Linked DNA regions of Homo sapiens. The protein of the gene in region 4 interacts with the protein of the main gene of each other region in a biochemical or structural test. Each region holds a gene or a part of one and is shown on either strand. Other genes may lie near its edges.

The links. The genes of interacting proteins can lie anywhere in the genome.
Region 1: the proteins of DLG2 (region 4) and GRM5 interact in a test that uses a peptide from one of them, tested with the Homo sapiens proteins (one large-scale study listed by IntAct).
Region 2: the proteins of DLG2 (region 4) and DGKK interact in a test that uses a peptide from one of them, tested with the Homo sapiens proteins (one large-scale study listed by IntAct).
Region 3: the proteins of DLG2 (region 4) and RCN2 interact in a test that uses a peptide from one of them, tested with the Homo sapiens proteins (one large-scale study listed by IntAct).

Annotation. Positions count from the first base shown.
Region 1 is NC_000011.10:89,041,632-89,045,529, reverse strand, and holds part of GRM5 (metabotropic glutamate receptor 5 isoform a precursor), read left to right. Parts: intron 1-3,898. UniProt on the Homo sapiens protein: G-protein coupled receptor for glutamate. Ligand binding causes a conformation change that triggers signaling via guanine nucleotide-binding proteins (G proteins) and modulates the activity of down-stream effectors.
Region 2 is NC_000023.11:50,383,475-50,387,372, reverse strand, and holds part of DGKK (diacylglycerol kinase kappa), read left to right. Parts: intron 1-786; coding exon 787-1,015; intron 1,016-2,548; coding exon 2,549-2,653; intron 2,654-3,108; coding exon 3,109-3,205; intron 3,206-3,898. UniProt on the Homo sapiens protein: Diacylglycerol kinase that converts diacylglycerol/DAG into phosphatidic acid/phosphatidate/PA and regulates the respective levels of these two bioactive lipids.
Region 3 is NC_000015.10:76,948,702-76,952,171, reverse strand, and holds part of RCN2 (reticulocalbin-2 isoform a precursor), read right to left. Parts: intron 3,103-3,470; coding exon 2,950-3,102; 3' UTR 1-2,949.
Region 4 is NC_000011.10:83,467,563-83,473,131, forward strand, and holds part of DLG2 (disks large homolog 2), read right to left. Parts: intron 5,216-5,569; coding exon 5,165-5,215; intron 4,166-5,164; coding exon 4,064-4,165; intron 1,812-4,063; coding exon 1,639-1,811; intron 1-1,638. UniProt on the Homo sapiens protein: Required for perception of chronic pain through NMDA receptor signaling. Regulates surface expression of NMDA receptors in dorsal horn neurons of the spinal cord.

The DNA of each region.
Region 1 (3,898 bases), 5.6 Mb from region 4:
AGACATTCTACTAGGTAATGATTATAATTTCCAAGATCATCTTAGGTGAATAAAACAAGGGGCATTTCTGTATATATAACATTTTATTTTTTCTAAAAGGGGTTTTTATGCAAACAATTTGATTGGATCTTCATAGAATTGTTCTCAGAGAAGAGCAAAACTACTAAGAGTTGCTGCTTCTGAGAAGAAATCTAAGTTAAGAAATGAGGTGGAATATTTTATGCATAATTTTTATATACATACACTTTAAGCTCTATATTAAATACATAATTTACCTACTGAAATATAACAATTACATGAAAACATTCTATTTGTGGGAAAACAAAAGACAATAGAAATTGCAATGCCAAATTCAGGCAAAATATTTAGGTTGTACCACCAGGATTCAGGAGAGAACAAACCTTGGAATTGGACATTCAAAGGTTGGAAGAAATACTCGTTTGCTTACTGTTTATGTGGTTGTGTCAAGAAATATTTATCTTGCTTTGATCCCAAGCAAGTATGTGAATAACGAGGTTATGTAGTGTTAAGTCTTATGATTTATCAGTACAAGAATGGCATGGTAGGAATTTTCACAAGGTGAAACTCACCTCCAGGATCAGAAAAGTGAGAGTCAAACAGGATACAGCTTTGTTGGGTACTGTGGGAACTCTCTAAGGTCATGCTTTTTTTTTTTTTTCCTCCCCACTTGGTTTTTCAGAAAGTCTTGGTGGGATCTTCCATGAAATGATAGTGTCAGTTATCATCCAGTCTCTTCCTCTCACTGGGTTGAGGTGATTTTCTCTAGCATTAGGAGAATTAATCCCAGTACTTGATAATTTATCTTCATATTCTTATAATTATTCTCCTTTGTTCCATCAATATTCTCTTTCTTGAAGAGTATGGAAATTTCCAAATGCTTTCACATGAACCATTAAGGTCTGTGAAAAGATGTGGTCCTATTTTCAAAAAACATTTTTTCTCCTAATTGCCTATGTGTTTTATACTTAAACCTAACCGTACTGTGTCACGGGTACCACAAGATGTTCCTTCAAGAAAGTGTATGTCATCACAGAATTCCAGAGGAGTGTACAAGGAAAACTGGGTTTCAGCTTCGATGTTAATCTCTTACACTTGCTATTTCCTGTGATTTATGGCTTTAGTAGGCTGTGTGACTGGGTATTTACTGTGGCTTGTTCTATTACACAGAAATTATGCCTGGAACTTCTAGGCAAAGAGATTTATAGTATAAAACAGAAGAAGAAGAAAAAAGAAAGCATTTTTTAAAGAGCAGATCAAACTAGCTCTTCAACTGGGCAGAGGAAAGGAATATGCAATGACTCAGAAGAAAAGTAAAATCACTTCTTTTAATGGAGTAAGAACTCTCTCTGCACTAAGGAAATGTAAAGGGTCCTTTGCCTTAGTACTTTTGCAAACCTTGATACATGTGCCCACGATGACACAGGATTGATGGTGCTTGCCCATTTAGCAGTGTGGCAGATTGCATTGATGACGTCTACTAATGGTGCTTCTGTATTCACATCATTTGCTTTTGACTTGATAATTCCCTTTTACTTTCATGTAGCACTGGCCTTCTGACACTTTGACCAATAGCACTTGGTTGACGTGAGAACTTTCTTCCTAGTTTGTGTTGGAACCCTATTGTCACCCTGTGAAGTATGAGAGCACCCAGGTTTTCCAAATGAGTGCATCTTAGACCAGTTGACCTCAAACATGTGAGAGCGTGCAATGCAGATCAACAAAATTGCCTTTCCAACCCACAGCTAATTGCAATCACATAATTGAGCCCAGCTGAAACCCTCAACATTACCCAGCTGACTATTATTGTTAGCAATAAAAAATGCCTTCAGGATGGAGTCCAGTATAAACATACTCATCCCTCTCACTTTAGTCTCTAACTTCCCTTCTCCCAAATCAGATACTATTGCTTAAACTTCAAAAGCAAAAAAAAAAAAATAACATGCATTAATATTCTTGAAATTCGAATATGAAATAAAACAGAATATATGCTGTGGGCAAGAAAGAATATTTAAAATGCTTTGCCTATACTTCTGTGGCTAGAGATGTGATAGTTCCCTTAAAGTCTGAATGTTTCAAATAGTTAAGCGCTTGAATATATTTCATTATTATATTCTTTACCTTGATCTAGTTCAACTTCATTAAGAAAAGTAATTATTGTATTGTGTTTTATACAAAAAAAAATTTTATATTGTACTTCCTGGGTGATTGACAAGATTTCACACTTCACTAGTTTTCCTGACTTTAGTTGAAAATCTACAGCATATCCACAGGGCCTATTAGAGTGCCCATCATATAATATGTGCTCAAAGACTATTTGCTGAATAGAGGAATTTGTGTTAGTGAAGTACGTAGCTCACCATTTATGACTATATAGTATGTGGATAAATAGCAGGCACTTGTAAGTTTTTAGTTTTGCTTCTTTATAAAAATGAGGTGTCAAAATGACTCCCTTGATTAATTGTAAAATCCTGTTCACGCTACACTTCATTTTCTGTTTTCACTGGTTCTTGAATTTATTATTTCTGTCTAATGACAGGAATGTTAATTTGTTACAGCAAAAAACAAATCAGTGATGTTCTGGGGAGAAAAATGTACCAATAAATTGTACTGGTAGCATACATTATTGAAGATATGGTCTTCAGGTTAACCTAGAGATTGCAATTTCAGGTTATAATATGACTTCCCATCAGTTATTTACTTAAAAATGTGATAACAATCCAGCTTTGATTGAAGGAACTTCAGTATGATTCATAGTCTATATGCTTGTTTGACTTCTAAAAACTGGGAGTACACTTTTCCCATCTCAGCATTTCTACTAATTATCATTACACAAGACAATTTACCTTGGAAAAATAATAAATGGTACTGTGGAAGCTACTGAATAATTTTTAAAAGGACTTTATTTTGTTTCTCCAGGAATTGAACAGTGCTGAGAGTTAAAACAAATTTTGGGATGATCATGGTAATAATAAAGACACATAAATTACTATTCATTCCATAGAATGTTAACACTGTGTCTCAGGCCAGCATTTAATCTTCTGTATTTTACGGTTAAGGAAACTAAAATAGAAAGGTCACATAACTCTACCTTGCTTGTCAGATAATTAGTTGCAGAGTTGTGTCTTGGAACTCAAGATTTCTGTCCAGAACTTGGTTTCCAAAACATTGCTGGAGATTATTAGTCAGGTTCCTTTTTGCCATTTTTCTACCTCTCCATTGCATTGTTTTATTCACTCTCCCTTTATCTCAGTGGCACCAATATTTCTAAACAATTGGCTGAAAGTGTTAATAACTATCTGAAATAGTAGAAGGGACCACAAATGAAATAATTCATCTAAAAATTAGCCTTCACAGGAGAATTGCTTGAACCTGGGAGGTGGAGGTTGCAGTGAGCCAAGATCATGCCATTGCACTCCAGCCTGGGTGACAAAAGCAAAACTGTCTCAAAAAATAAAAATAAAAATTAGCCTTGAGAAATAGCATGATCAATTTGCTCTTGATCTGTAAATTAGATGAAGTGCTCCTTTTCCTGGGTCGTATCGAAGGTTTGCGGAAACTCTGAAAGATTTTCCTTTGCTCCACAAAAATTCTGAAAACATGAGATCCCCAGAAATCTTTGAAATTATGGATTGATTGTATAATTATATTGGTTACCACTGACTTAACAATATATACAATTTAGAAGATGCAGAAACTTTTAGGGGAATTCTTTAGTAAGTTGGATCTGGATCCGTAATCTGGGAAACACAGTGGGCAACTCTAATTGTAAAGAAACAGTTTTTCATATTCATATATCACTGTCAGAAACTTCATTGCTAGCAGTGAAAAAAATACAGATAGCTCTGGAAAGAGCGTTTAGAGGGGCATTCCCTCCTCT
Region 2 (3,898 bases), on a different chromosome or scaffold from region 4:
TGGCGCTCTGCATGCATACACACATACCATGTACATGCCAAGCATCTGCCCACAACTAGACACAAGTGTACATCAAGCAGGTATGTGCATGGTTGTACACCAGAACATGCTTACAAGTATGTACATACGAATACACACTACAAATACATTCACATTTACCTCTCTAACAACAATAGCCAACATTTATATAGCACTTACTCTGTGTCAAGGACTGTTCTGTTTTTAATGTATTAATGTATTTATTCCTCACAACTACCCTAGAATATGGAGGCACAAAGCGGTTAAGAAACTTGCCTCAGATCGCAAACTATTAAGTGATGGAGCTAAGAATCAAGGCCTTAAATCATGCAGCAGATGTAGGTCCCCAAGCCTGTACACATACAAAGACACACACCAAGCACCCAAGCAGGGACACGTTCATATCCAGAGGAGCGTGCCCATGAAAATCCAGAAATATTTGTCTTTCCTCAAGTTTGCATGTTATACATTGTTTTATAGGCCCGTTTGACACAAGAAAGACTCAGCTATATACACTGATGCATGGGGCCACTCAGAAACAAATGATATGTGTTTGATCTCCTAACACCCTTTGGTTATCTCATCACATCTTCCCACCTACTTCTTTTGCTAAGTACTTCATCTTCTCACATGTGGTTTTCTATGCTCAGCATTTATGGACAACTCTTACCCCTCCCTACCCTTCCCCATATCACCACCACTCCTCATTCTGTCCTCTCAAGCATGGGTCCCTCATAACAATGCCCTGTCTCCTTCCTTTCTATATAGAGTGACTTAATGTATGATAGGCTCAGTGTCCTGATCGATGTCCTGGCTGAGGAGGCAGCAGCTACTTCTGCTGAAAAAAGTGCTACAGAATATGCAGACAGCAGCAAGGCAGATAGGAAGCCCTTCATTCCTCAAATAGACCACATAGCCAAGTGCAAGTTGGAGCTGGCTACAAAGGCCCAGAGTCTCCAGAAATCCTTGAAACTCATCATATTTCAAGTTGAACAAGGTAAGGTGGCCAGGGTTGTAGTGACTGAGGTAGGGGAAAGAAAAAGTTCCAGAGGATGGTTTACTGGCCTCACTGACTCCGGGTTTGCTCTCTGACTCTGCTACAAAAAGTCTAGATTCTGCATTCATATTGTATACAAAGTCAGTATTCAGACTACTGATTTGAAAAGCCTCAGTCCTGCTAAGCTGCCCCTTTGGCTCCTCCTACCTCCCAGACAGTCAACTCCTGCTACTCATTTTTGGAAACCAACACTCATCCTATACAATTATATTAATAGATGCTAAGTGACCTGGTTCAAAGCTCTATCAGCTTCCACCACCAGCCATAAGACTTTTTTCCTCCTTCTCCTGTTTCTTTCCAACCACTGAGCCTATGACTATTTTAGAAAGAAAATGGTGTTCAACTCTGCATGTGTTGCACATGATTAATCAGGCACAAGGGCCCTGAGAGTGGTCCTGACAGTTCTAGCATTAATTACCATTGCTCAGAACTCACGACAGTCTGCAAACTTCCCAACTCAGAATGAAAACTCTTCAACTCCCTCAGTTTCTTCATTGAATGTTTTGCTGACCACTTCTTTCCCACAATACTTTGAGAAACAGATCAGAAGGTGGTATAAGAATGAGTGTATTCTAACTGAACTATTGGAACTGAGCAGAAGTCCCATGCAGCAAGGAAGTCCCTTTGGCTGGCCCTTGACTTTTAGCCATGGTGCCTTGCCCTGCCTTGGTACCTTCACGTACAACCTCAGCCAAGTTTCCTAGAAAGAAAGAAAATCTCCCTTCTGCACAGTGGAAGGATTAAACAATCAATTTGCCTCTATTTCTATAATTAGTTTCCAAGCAGTGTGGATCAGATTAAACGGATGTAGCCATAACTGTCGCAACCAACCCTCAGTCTGCTCCATCAACACATATGTTAGATTTAGAGGTGTAGCTTGTGGCTATGAGATAGGAAAATACCTCCCTGGTAGGGGTAGAGATTGAACCTATGAGCTTTGACACAGGCTGAGACTGGGCATCTCAGCTATACAACATTTGGCTGGTGAAAGGAAAGAGACTTCCCAAATGTTCCAGGTGTGGAGTGAGACATTAGAGTGAAAGAGTGGCACAGTCCTAGAGGCTCAATTATAGACAAAAGCCACATAAGTAAATGAACTAATAGAATGGAGGTAGAAGAGCAGAGAGTTTCCCATGCTGATACCCCAATCCACAGCCACAAGCTTCTACTCACAACCACATGTACTGGGTGAGAGAAAAAAGAGTAACCAGTAAAACAAAGAAAGCTCAGGCATGAATATGAAAAAACAGCAACACTGTAAGCAAGCTGAGACTACAAACAGTATCATGGAGGAGACGTGATGGTCGAATGGGAGTCTCCATCATCTACCCACTAACTAAACAAAATAGATGCTCGATAAATGTTCAATAAGTGTAATTAATCTTTCCTTCCTTCCATCCTCCCTCCCTCCTTTCTTCCTCCCTCCCTTCCTCCTTTCTTTTTTGCTTTCCTTCCTCCCACTTTTCTCTATAGCTCTGGATGAGGAAAGCAGACAGACAATATCTGTTAAGAACTTTAGTTCAACTTTCTTCCTGGAAGATGACCCAGAAGATATTAACCAGACAAGCCCACGACGCCGTAAGGATCTTTCTGTCTTCTTCCCTTATTCTAGCCTTCGTCACTGTTGTTTAGCTCCCAAAGAATAAATATGTATTTTTTATGCATCCTCTTTTAGCCATAATCCTGCAGTAGATACCCCTCCGTCTTTCCCAGAAACTCACACTATAAGATCCCATGCCAATGTCCAGAGTAATGACCCCATTAGGAACATTGAAGAGGCTGGCCTGATGAAATACAAGATTTGAAGTTGTTTTCACTGCCAGCAAGCAAGCAGCCCAGCTTTATTCTTCTCTCAGTGGAAGTCCCTATCCATCCAAGAGGATCCCTCTTTGGAATTAGAACCCTTAATATTATCTAGGAGAAAGTCACTGAGCTTGACCCTGCCTCCACAGAGAAAATAGGGCGAAATACAAGTGAGGGGAAAGGGCTTTTTTGTTTGTATCCGTCACCCAAGTGATGTCTTTTGTGTCTAGGTTCTCGTCGTGGCACTTTGTCTTCTATATCTTCTCTCAAAAGTGAGGACCTGGACAACCTTAACTTGGATCACTTACATTTTACACCTGAATCTATGTAAGTATTTAACTCTATCACCTTTTAATGGCTTCTTTCTTTCTCTTGTTAAGAGCACAATCTTAGGATATCCATAGTCAAATCCTTTCTCTTACTTACTAGCTGTGTCACCTACGCAAGTGACTAAACCAGTGTGAGCCTCAGTTTTCTCATATGTAAAATGAAGACCATTGTAGAACTTGCATCATGGGTTTGCTGTATTTATTACATTTATATATGAAAAGTACTTGCACTGAGTAGTGCTTGGCACCCATAATTAAGTGTTATATGCATTTGCAGTTATTATTGTTATTATTATAAATAATTAATAAATGTTAGTTGTTGTTATTACAGAGGACTTGCTTTTTTTCACTGTTGCCCTTAACAGTAAATGGTTGAAGATACTAAAAACTAAAATGGTCACTAGGGGACTAGGCAGCAAATCTAAGGACATCTGTCTCACCAGTTCTCCCTCTTTAGAATATCGGCAGCAGCCAAGTTCTGCCACACTCACTCATTCTGAGTTCCATTAAGAAGATCAGTTTGGACATTAGTTAGAGAAACTCCAATCTCTGGACTGTGGTTGAGGGAGGCAAATCTCATGTGAGAGATGTAAGGTCAGTATGGTAATGAATAAAAAAGTAATCTAAGATTAAACAGCTAAACTGTATCCATTTAATTTCTCAAAAGGACACAGCTAGAAATTATTTATGT
Region 3 (3,470 bases), on a different chromosome or scaffold from region 4:
CTCTGGTAGGTACTATCTCATGACATATAGGATAGGATAGTGGGGGAGGCTGTACGTATGTGGGGCAGGGGACATATTGAAACTCTCTATACTACTTTTTGCTCAATTTTGCTGTGAACATAAAACTACACTAAAAAAAAAAAAAGCCTATTTTTAAAACTGCAAAGGAAAGAACTAAGTAAGGCAAACATGATATGCTAGCTTTTCCTCTGAACGTCCTGGCTTCCTTTAAATTTATATCATAATCTAGACATCATTTTCTGTCCTGCAAATTGGCCCAATCAGAACTACATATGAGCCAACATGTGCACATCCCATTCAATTTTCCCCTTTGAAGTTGTACCTGAACTCAAATAATGGAAGTCATTAAGTCCTTCAGGCAGAATCAGCCAATGATTCAGAAAGTCTCAAACTATTTTTACTCTCATGCTCAAGGATAAATTCAAATTATCCTAATTATATTAAAACCAAAATAAAAGCTTTATTTTAAAAGTCTTATTTAAAATTCAAATCTAAAAAAAGCCTTAAAATTTTCTATTTTGACTCAGCAGTAGATATAGCATCTCTGTTCAAGCAGATGATTCTTTTTCTCTGCATGCTTATTAAAAGCCTATTGTTAAATGTGAAATCTTCACTCAGTCACAGCAGGATGGGCTCTGCTGTGGTTAAAAACAAAAAAGCACAACCAAATCTCAGTGGCTTAACATAATTAAAAGCTTATTTTTTGATCATACAAAGCCCACTGTGGATCCAGCTGACCTACACAGACTCAAGATCAAAGCCACTTTCATCTTGTGGCTGCACCATTTCAGCTGAGGCCTCCTGCACAGTGCTGTGGCAGAGGAAAAGGGTTTGTCATGAGATAGTCTGATAGTGACACACACTACTTCCACCCATGTTTAACTGGTCAGAACTAGCCATCGCCTACCTACAAGAGGGCTGGGAAGTGTAGTTTTCTTTATGCTAGGAAGGAAAGTAGTACAGACATTGCATTTCTGCAAAGGATTGAAATATAATCCATATCTGATGATCTATTCTGGCATAGATTTTGGAGAAGCTAGAGAGAAAAACAAATAGTTAACTAGTCAAACTGGTGATTTCAAATATGCCAGCTTCAGTGAGTCTGACAAATGACAGATGAGTGATAGTGGTAAATCTGTAATTCTAAAACTGCTATAGCCAGACATATAGTGTAGGTTAAAATGAAAACCATGTAGATACCCAAGCAAGCAGTCATTAAGGTGTGGAAGCTTACAATTTGCAAGCACACCTCACATCAGCAAAGATGCGGCAGTAGAGAGGTATATAGGTGCAGTCGATTCTATCAGAGAAGAGTTTCATGTCTTCTCAAATAGTCATAGGTACTTGTTGAGCCCCCAGTGTGCTGTATATGAGACAACTTTAGGCTGGAAAGTGATTAAGAGAATGCATAGCTGACCTCTTCACCCACAAATAAAAGTGATTTAAAGAATGAAAAACTAGAGGCCGTGCGCGTTGGCTCACGCCTGTAATTCCAGCACCTTGGGAGGCCGAGGTGGGCTGATCATGAGGTCAGGAGATCGAAACCATCCTGGCTAACACGGTGAAACCCGGTCTCTACTAAAAATACAAAAAAATTAGCCGGGTGTGGTGGCAGGCGCCTGTAGTCCCAGCTACTCGGGAGGCTGAGGCAGGAGAATGGCGTGAACCCAGGAGGCAGAGCTTGCAGTGAGCCGAGATAGTGCCCCTGCACTCCAGCCTGGGCCACAGAGCAAGACTCTGTCACAAAAAAAAAAAAAAAAAAAAGAATGAAAAACAATCTCTGTACATCAGAACTAGAAAAAAATTAATTCCTCCCTTCACTTTTCCCTATCCCACCTCCACCAAAGTTAAATAAGTTGACCTGCTGAATTAGGTTAAAATTGATTATCATGCTTATCAAGTATGATTTTAATTTCAGTAAAATTGATACTGAGCTCTACTGTTGATAACTGACCAGCTCTATTGGTAATTCCAACCTGCGTTACTCAAGATTATTTATAGCCCCAAAGAGCAAAACCACATTTGCTACAACACCAATTATTAAAATGTGTCAGGTGCACATTCAATTATATTATAACATGATTCTCTTATTTAAAAAAAAAATAAGAAAATGCAGCAAGAATAATTTGACAGTTTTGGGAACTATCCACATAAAGGAATGGATGAGGCAAGATAATGTACAATACCACAAAACCTATGCTAAATTCAATATTTATCTGAAAGTTAAAGAAAAGCAAACAAACATATACAAAGGACATTTCATTTTTAATCACTCAAAAATGAAAAAGGTTTGGACAATGTCAAATTCCACTCACCATAATGCTATAGTTATACATTAAATATAATTACTATCTATACATATGCAAAAATATAAAGTTCTATTTCATACAATAAAACCCTTTATAGAAACCATTTTAAAATTAAGCAGAACTTCTCAACATTAATATGTGAGGTCTAAGTCCTTCTAAAGGTTTCTTTAAAGGTTTTTAAACAAAATGCTAAACCTAAAAACATTGTCCTGTCAGTTCCCAAATTAAATCTACTTAGAACAAAAACAAAAATTTATAGCTCGGTCACATACTACTTAAATAATATTGTTCAGGCATCTCTAAAATCCTCCATGTTTTCAAGTATGGAAATAGAACTCAAATATTCCACAATACAGTACTAAACAGATGGAGTATTTAGGAAAGACTTTGTTGTCATATGGCACAATATTAATATTTTGTTGCTTCAATACATTTTGAAATAAATATCAGATTTTTGTTTTTTTTTCCTAAAAGACCAAAATTATAATCTACATTAAGATAATTCTGACTGTGGTTAAGACTTAAGAGTGTAAAATACAACATCAATATTTTATCACAAAAGTAAAGCTGGTAACAAATTATAAAAGGAGCCAGTACTCTACTGAGACAGGCTCAGAGATTAAAGCTCATCATGATAGAAATAGTCATCATGGAGCTGTCTGCCATAATCTGTGGCTTCACTGGTGAGAAACAAGTCCGGGTTTTCCAGAATCTCTTCTTCAGAGAGCTTTTTGTCACCATTCAAATCCATTTCATCAATTAGATGAAGCGCCTTCAAAATAAAACAAAAAAGTGTCAAGTGTAATAAGTATTTTCAGCAAGATGTTCACAATTTAATGTGATTTGACTTGTCAAAATCATCCAGGTGTACAAGTACTCATTATTGTTTAAGTATCTAAAAATGTTACACGTTGTAACCAGGTCCGTCTACTGCTTTTCCCATTATCTCCTTTCTTCATTTCTGCTGGGTTCTGTCTCTCTCCACTCAAATCCAATCCAGGATATATCAAGGCAATGAAAAATTATTATAACCTGTTTTGAGTCCCTGTAGGTAAATACAAACTATTATTCTATTCACTGTACTCTCAAATTAATACATGACACAATCTTAACTTCCTCGTCTCCCTGACAATCTAAACA
Region 4 (5,569 bases):
AAATGGTGAGACCCTGTCTCTGCTAAAAATCCAAAAAGTTCACCAGGCATGGTGGTGGGCACCTGTAATCCCAGCTACTTGAGAGGCTGAGGCAGGAGAATCACTTGAACCCAGGAGGTGGAGGTTGCAGTGAGCTGAGACCGTGCCATGGCATTCCAGCCTGGGCAATAAGAGTGAAATGCCATCTCAAAAAAAATAAAAACTATATGTATATATATATATATATATATATATATATATATATATATACACACACACATATAAAATATATAATTAAAACATATATATATATATATATATAAATTAAATGCGGGTTAAATGCCAAGAGAGAAAGGCTTGCATGAGGTATGTAAATTTCTTGTTTGTTAACAAATAAAAATGCTATTACATTATAGCACACCTCATTTAACTTGGCTTCCACCACAATGAGTGCTCAGAGCAAGCAGCTGCTTTATAAAGCATTTCTGGATATGCAGATACATTTGCCACATCATATTCTACCTCCTGGAGAGAAATGTCCTCATTACCCTGAGGCTAGAATAACTTTATGCAAGAAGAGAAAAAAGGCACTTTATGCAGATAGGAACAATACTAAATCAATAATAAGGGCTAAAATCTCATCTATAATGTTCACATGAAAATGAATACAGTCCAGTGAATACTTGAAGTCTTCTTATCTGAGAAACCCACTAAGATGGTTCAAGCCGTTATTACTTAGGTAATAGATTTCAAGTTTTCTATCTGTGAAGTGCAGCAGCCACATAACATGTATAAATGCTGGTTGATTATTCACCAGTCAGAACATTTCAAGTTAACAACATGAACAAAGAGGAAAATAGGTGCAATTATCCAGGACAGTTTGACTAGAACCAGTATTCATTTAGTTGATAGAACTGAACTTTTGAGAGGGAGGAAAATAGATGCAACTTCTTAGTGTATTCTTAGATAGACATCAAAATTACTTAATTCTTTAGCGGTACATTGAGAAAGGTCATGGCAAATCAAATCAACCCAACAAATATCTTCTCCTATGATACTGGTTCTCTGTGTTCACAGGAAATAGGATCCCTCTGTAGGCAGATTGTGTAGCCACACCCAGGTGCCTTCCTATGGTACCCTCTCTTGAACATTCTTCTCTTTTCCATGCCCCTGAAGTTACCAGCAAAAAGATAATAGCAGCATCTACACCTCCTCTAAGCTAGAACTTCTGCGAGCAAAAGGCTGGGCAGCCCTTCTCATCTATCTTCTCTTCTACCATGAGGATGTCAAGTTTTCAGAGAGAGAGAAAAAAAATAACTTCCTCTAACAAAATAATTCAGGAATGCTATCCCCTTGGTTTACAACTAAAGTAGTAAACCTGCCTTAATAAAATCAAGGTTGTGTATTGGGGCCTCAGATAGTGAGTCAAAGACAAAGCCCTCTTCCTACTTTTTCCAAGTCAGTGAGAATACTTTATTGAAATTAGAACAAAGATTAATGACATTGCTCTAAGGTGATTCTCTGCTTGGATGTTTTAAATTATTAAATCAAAATTTACAATTGCAATCAAGAAAGAGTAATGACCAAAAAAAAAAAAAAATGCAGTTTGCAACCTAGAAACCTTCTTCAGGGGAGGTGTAAGAAGATTGGTGAACATACTCTTTCTGCTACAAATCTCACAGACTGCACACTGGTTCCATATAAATTGTCATTGTACTGGCCGGCTTCTATAAACTTGTGCTCTTGGATATCTTTCTCCATTTGTTCTCTGGAAATGACAAAGTGATAGTCTCTGCCATCCACCTCGTAGTCTCGCTTTGGCCTCGTAGTATCTTTATAAAACAAAAAATGATAAAATTAAGGTGCATTTATACCCATAAACTTGCTTTACACCTATATTCTCCACCACATCCTCAACATTGATATGTAGAAATATGTAGTATGAAGAAATATGACATAGTAACAGGTACTAGTCTTACCCTCCCACCATAAGCAACTAAAAAACTGGACAAAATATATGAAACAACTGTTTTCAGATATCAGACAACAGGAAGTACAGGGCTGTAATCTTTGAGAAAAGAGAAACATATGAGAGAGCATTCACCCCACCTCTCTACCTAGAGGCCATTTCCAAATGGAGAGTTTAGACATCACATGGTGCTAGAAGACACGGGAGTTGAGTCAGAACCCATGGAGATCCCAGAAAGGCCACATTTTAAAAGGTTACTCTAGACTTACTCTACACCCATCTTCACAAAGTCTAAAACCATGTCACAAATGGAAGAAGCTGCTGTGTCAGTAAATTATCACCTGTCAGAACAAAAACTTAACATTCTATAAAGGACCATAAAATTCAGACTCTCAACATATATAAAATAAGATAATCACAGTTAGATAGGACTAAAAATCAGCAACTCTAACCATTTCACCTAAATTTTTTGGTAAGAAGAGAAGGGGAAAGCAATCTAGCAATATGAATAAAAGCTGTTAAAATATTTTTAATCTTTGACTCACTTATTTTTTCCTAGAAATATGTTTTTAAAAATGATCAAAACTTCAGATACAGATTTATCCTTAAAGATATTCATTATATTATTTTATAAGTAATAATTATAACACAATTACGATGATATTTTTGTCACAATTCATAATAGTGAAAAATAGGGAAAAACCAAAATGTTCATAAAGAATGATTAATTGGGATATAATAATCATTTGAAATAGTTATATAAAATTTTAAATAAGCAAAAAAATCATCACAGAGAAAAAATGCATGCATAGAAAGAATAGATGGAAATGTACAAAAATATTAACAATGATGTTATCTCTGGGTATTGTGTGGGATTTTGTATACTTCTAATTTTCTCGTTTAACTTTCTTTTTAGTGTTTTTGAAGTTTTGTACAATGAACATCTATTGACTATCACAAAATGGTTCTATTAATTCAAAAAAGAGAGAATATGCAAGGTGAAAGGGAAAGCAGAAAGAATGCTTAAGTACCTTCTGTTTTCTTTCTCTCAAAAGTGGAGGAGCAAGCTGGAAGCTTGCTGTAAACGACCTGGAGTTTCATTTGCTCCTTCCTGTCTGAAGACTTTCTCAGGATATGTTCTATGGCAGGATCTCTTCCCAGAGCCCTTGCTGGGAATTGTTTCATGAGATACAGCAATCATCCTAGTCTTTTGGCCATGTACTGGACACATACAATTCCTGCTATTCTTAAGTATCTCATGTAAAATTTGCAGTACTGGAATGTTAGAGACACTTGAAAGCATCAGGCTTAAAACACATAGAATGGAAGAGAAATATTTGTTGGTATCAGATGTAAGAGCTCCATTATCTAATAAATTAAAATTTCCTGATGGACCTGTCTACATACGTAGAAGGTCTGCATGCATTTCTGTTTGACAGAGTCGGGGTGTAGACGGGGTGAATGAGTGGAGAAAGTATGGTAGGGGTGGGGAGGGGAAGAGGCAGAGCAGTTAGAATCTAATAAGGCTACAATCAGAGGGACCAGAAGCCTGATGATAATCTATAATGAGAAGAAAGTAGTTTAAAGTCTGTAATGGCCTAGAGGTCAAATTGAAGTGTTACACATTTTCTTGTCTTCACCCTCCCTAAACCTGGGACTGTCAACATGGGAAAGCCTATTGGGTTTTGGGATTGACATATGGCCCTAAGTCATCCTGAGAGGATTTTAATATATGGCTTTGTTTCCGATCTCTTCCATCCTATAAAAAATAATGTTTCAGTGGCATTTTGATCAATCTATGAAAACATACTGATGCCTATCATAAATCCTATGCTGTTTTAAATGGTTGGGGGCCACAAAAATTCATCCTGCCTTTTAAGGGGCTACAATCAGTTTAGAGAAAACATTATTATTTTTATTAAATACAGAATGACACACGGCAGCATAAATGAAAAGTGTTAGGCAAATAAATTAAATAAGGCACTCAGCTAATCGGAAATGGTTGGTATTTGAATTACTGGAGAGACTACTGGAGGATGGAATTACATTTTACCATCTCATAAAGAAATCCAAGCTCTTTTTGTTTTTCCTAGAGGAAAGAAAAATGACACTTACGAGGCACACAGGAGCCAAATTTATCAGGGAATTCAGATATCAAGTCGTCATTGATCCGATCCTTCATGGGCCCCAGGATAATCACCGGCCGGGTGTAGTTTACTGCAGAATGGGAAAGGAAGATGTAGGTAAAGAGAAAGAGTTGGAAACAACTGCAAAACTGTCCTGCAAGGGTGATTCTTAATTGCCAGACAGTAAGAGATGCTAAGGGCATTACTTCACTGGATAAATTACTCATACAGCCTTGCATAGGGAAATTGATGTTTAACACTCAGGAGATTGGCAGTGCCTACTTTCTGGAATCTACTAGCAGGGAAAGGCAATTGCAGTATCTGTTGATGAAAAGAAACATTTGGAGGAGTTTTGCTTACTCTCTGGCTCTGCCTACATAATGTCAAAACAACTGAATTTAGTCAACTGAGTGGGAGAAAAAAGAATCCAAACCAGCTGTTTGGCTATTGTTTAGATATGACTATAAAAAGTAATTGTTAGTAGTAATAACATCTTATGTTTTCATGATTTCTTTTCCCCAGATCAAAATACTCTCTATACTTTGCTACAGTTTCTAGATTTCCTTGTATCTGGGATTAGAAGGAACCTGAGAGTTCATTGGGTACAAGTCCCCATCTGATGCTTGAATTCTCTCTGCAGTATCCTTGTCAGTAGCAATTAGCCTCTGTATAAATGCCTCCAGGAAAAAGCAGCAGCTTACAGATAGCCTACATCTTAGGCAGATCTGCTAGAAAGTCATTCTCAATACTGAGCTGACATCAGTCTCTCAGGAGAATTTATTCACCAGTCTCGTAGCTAGTGCTCTTTAGGTAATTTGAATGTGTTCCTTCCCATTGAGGACCACTCATCTGGAGGGCTGCATCCTTCTCTTAGGTGCTATTAGTGCCCATACTCAGCAGGAAGTTGTCTGTTTGGTGATAGGGTCAAAGAGAGAGAAAGTGAGAGACAGCGTAAGAGTAAGGTACGGTCTCAAGACAACAGAGCATTAAGCCGAGTTTATTCTCCTTAGTCCTTCACTCTTTCCCTCCTTCAATGATGTCACCTCTTATGGCCCAGAAATTAGGAATGAAAGCGTGCTGGGAAACTTACTTTCCTGCCTTGTAACAGGCTCATAGGAAAGAATGAGGTCTTCTTGTCCTCCTGAGAAGAGAAGGAAAGAAAACCACAGTGAACTAACAGTCATATATTACAGAGACAAGCCCTGCTCTGAAACACAGGAAACAGACACAGCTCAGAGTTAATTCTCCTTGCTCTTTCTCCTTGAACCATTCAAAAATAACTTCATCCTCATAAAACTCTTTAGCACCATTTTAGTATCAGATTTTCACAGTCATAACTCTAAGTAATAACTGGTTGCTAGCTATTTGCTGCAGGGCAATGACCTGTGAGACTTCTTTCTGTCTGGCATTGAGAATGGAATGCCATGGCCTCTACACCAAGCATTACTACTTAAAAGGAAGCCATTTAGTTCAAGGAAAGGGTCCAATTCAATAG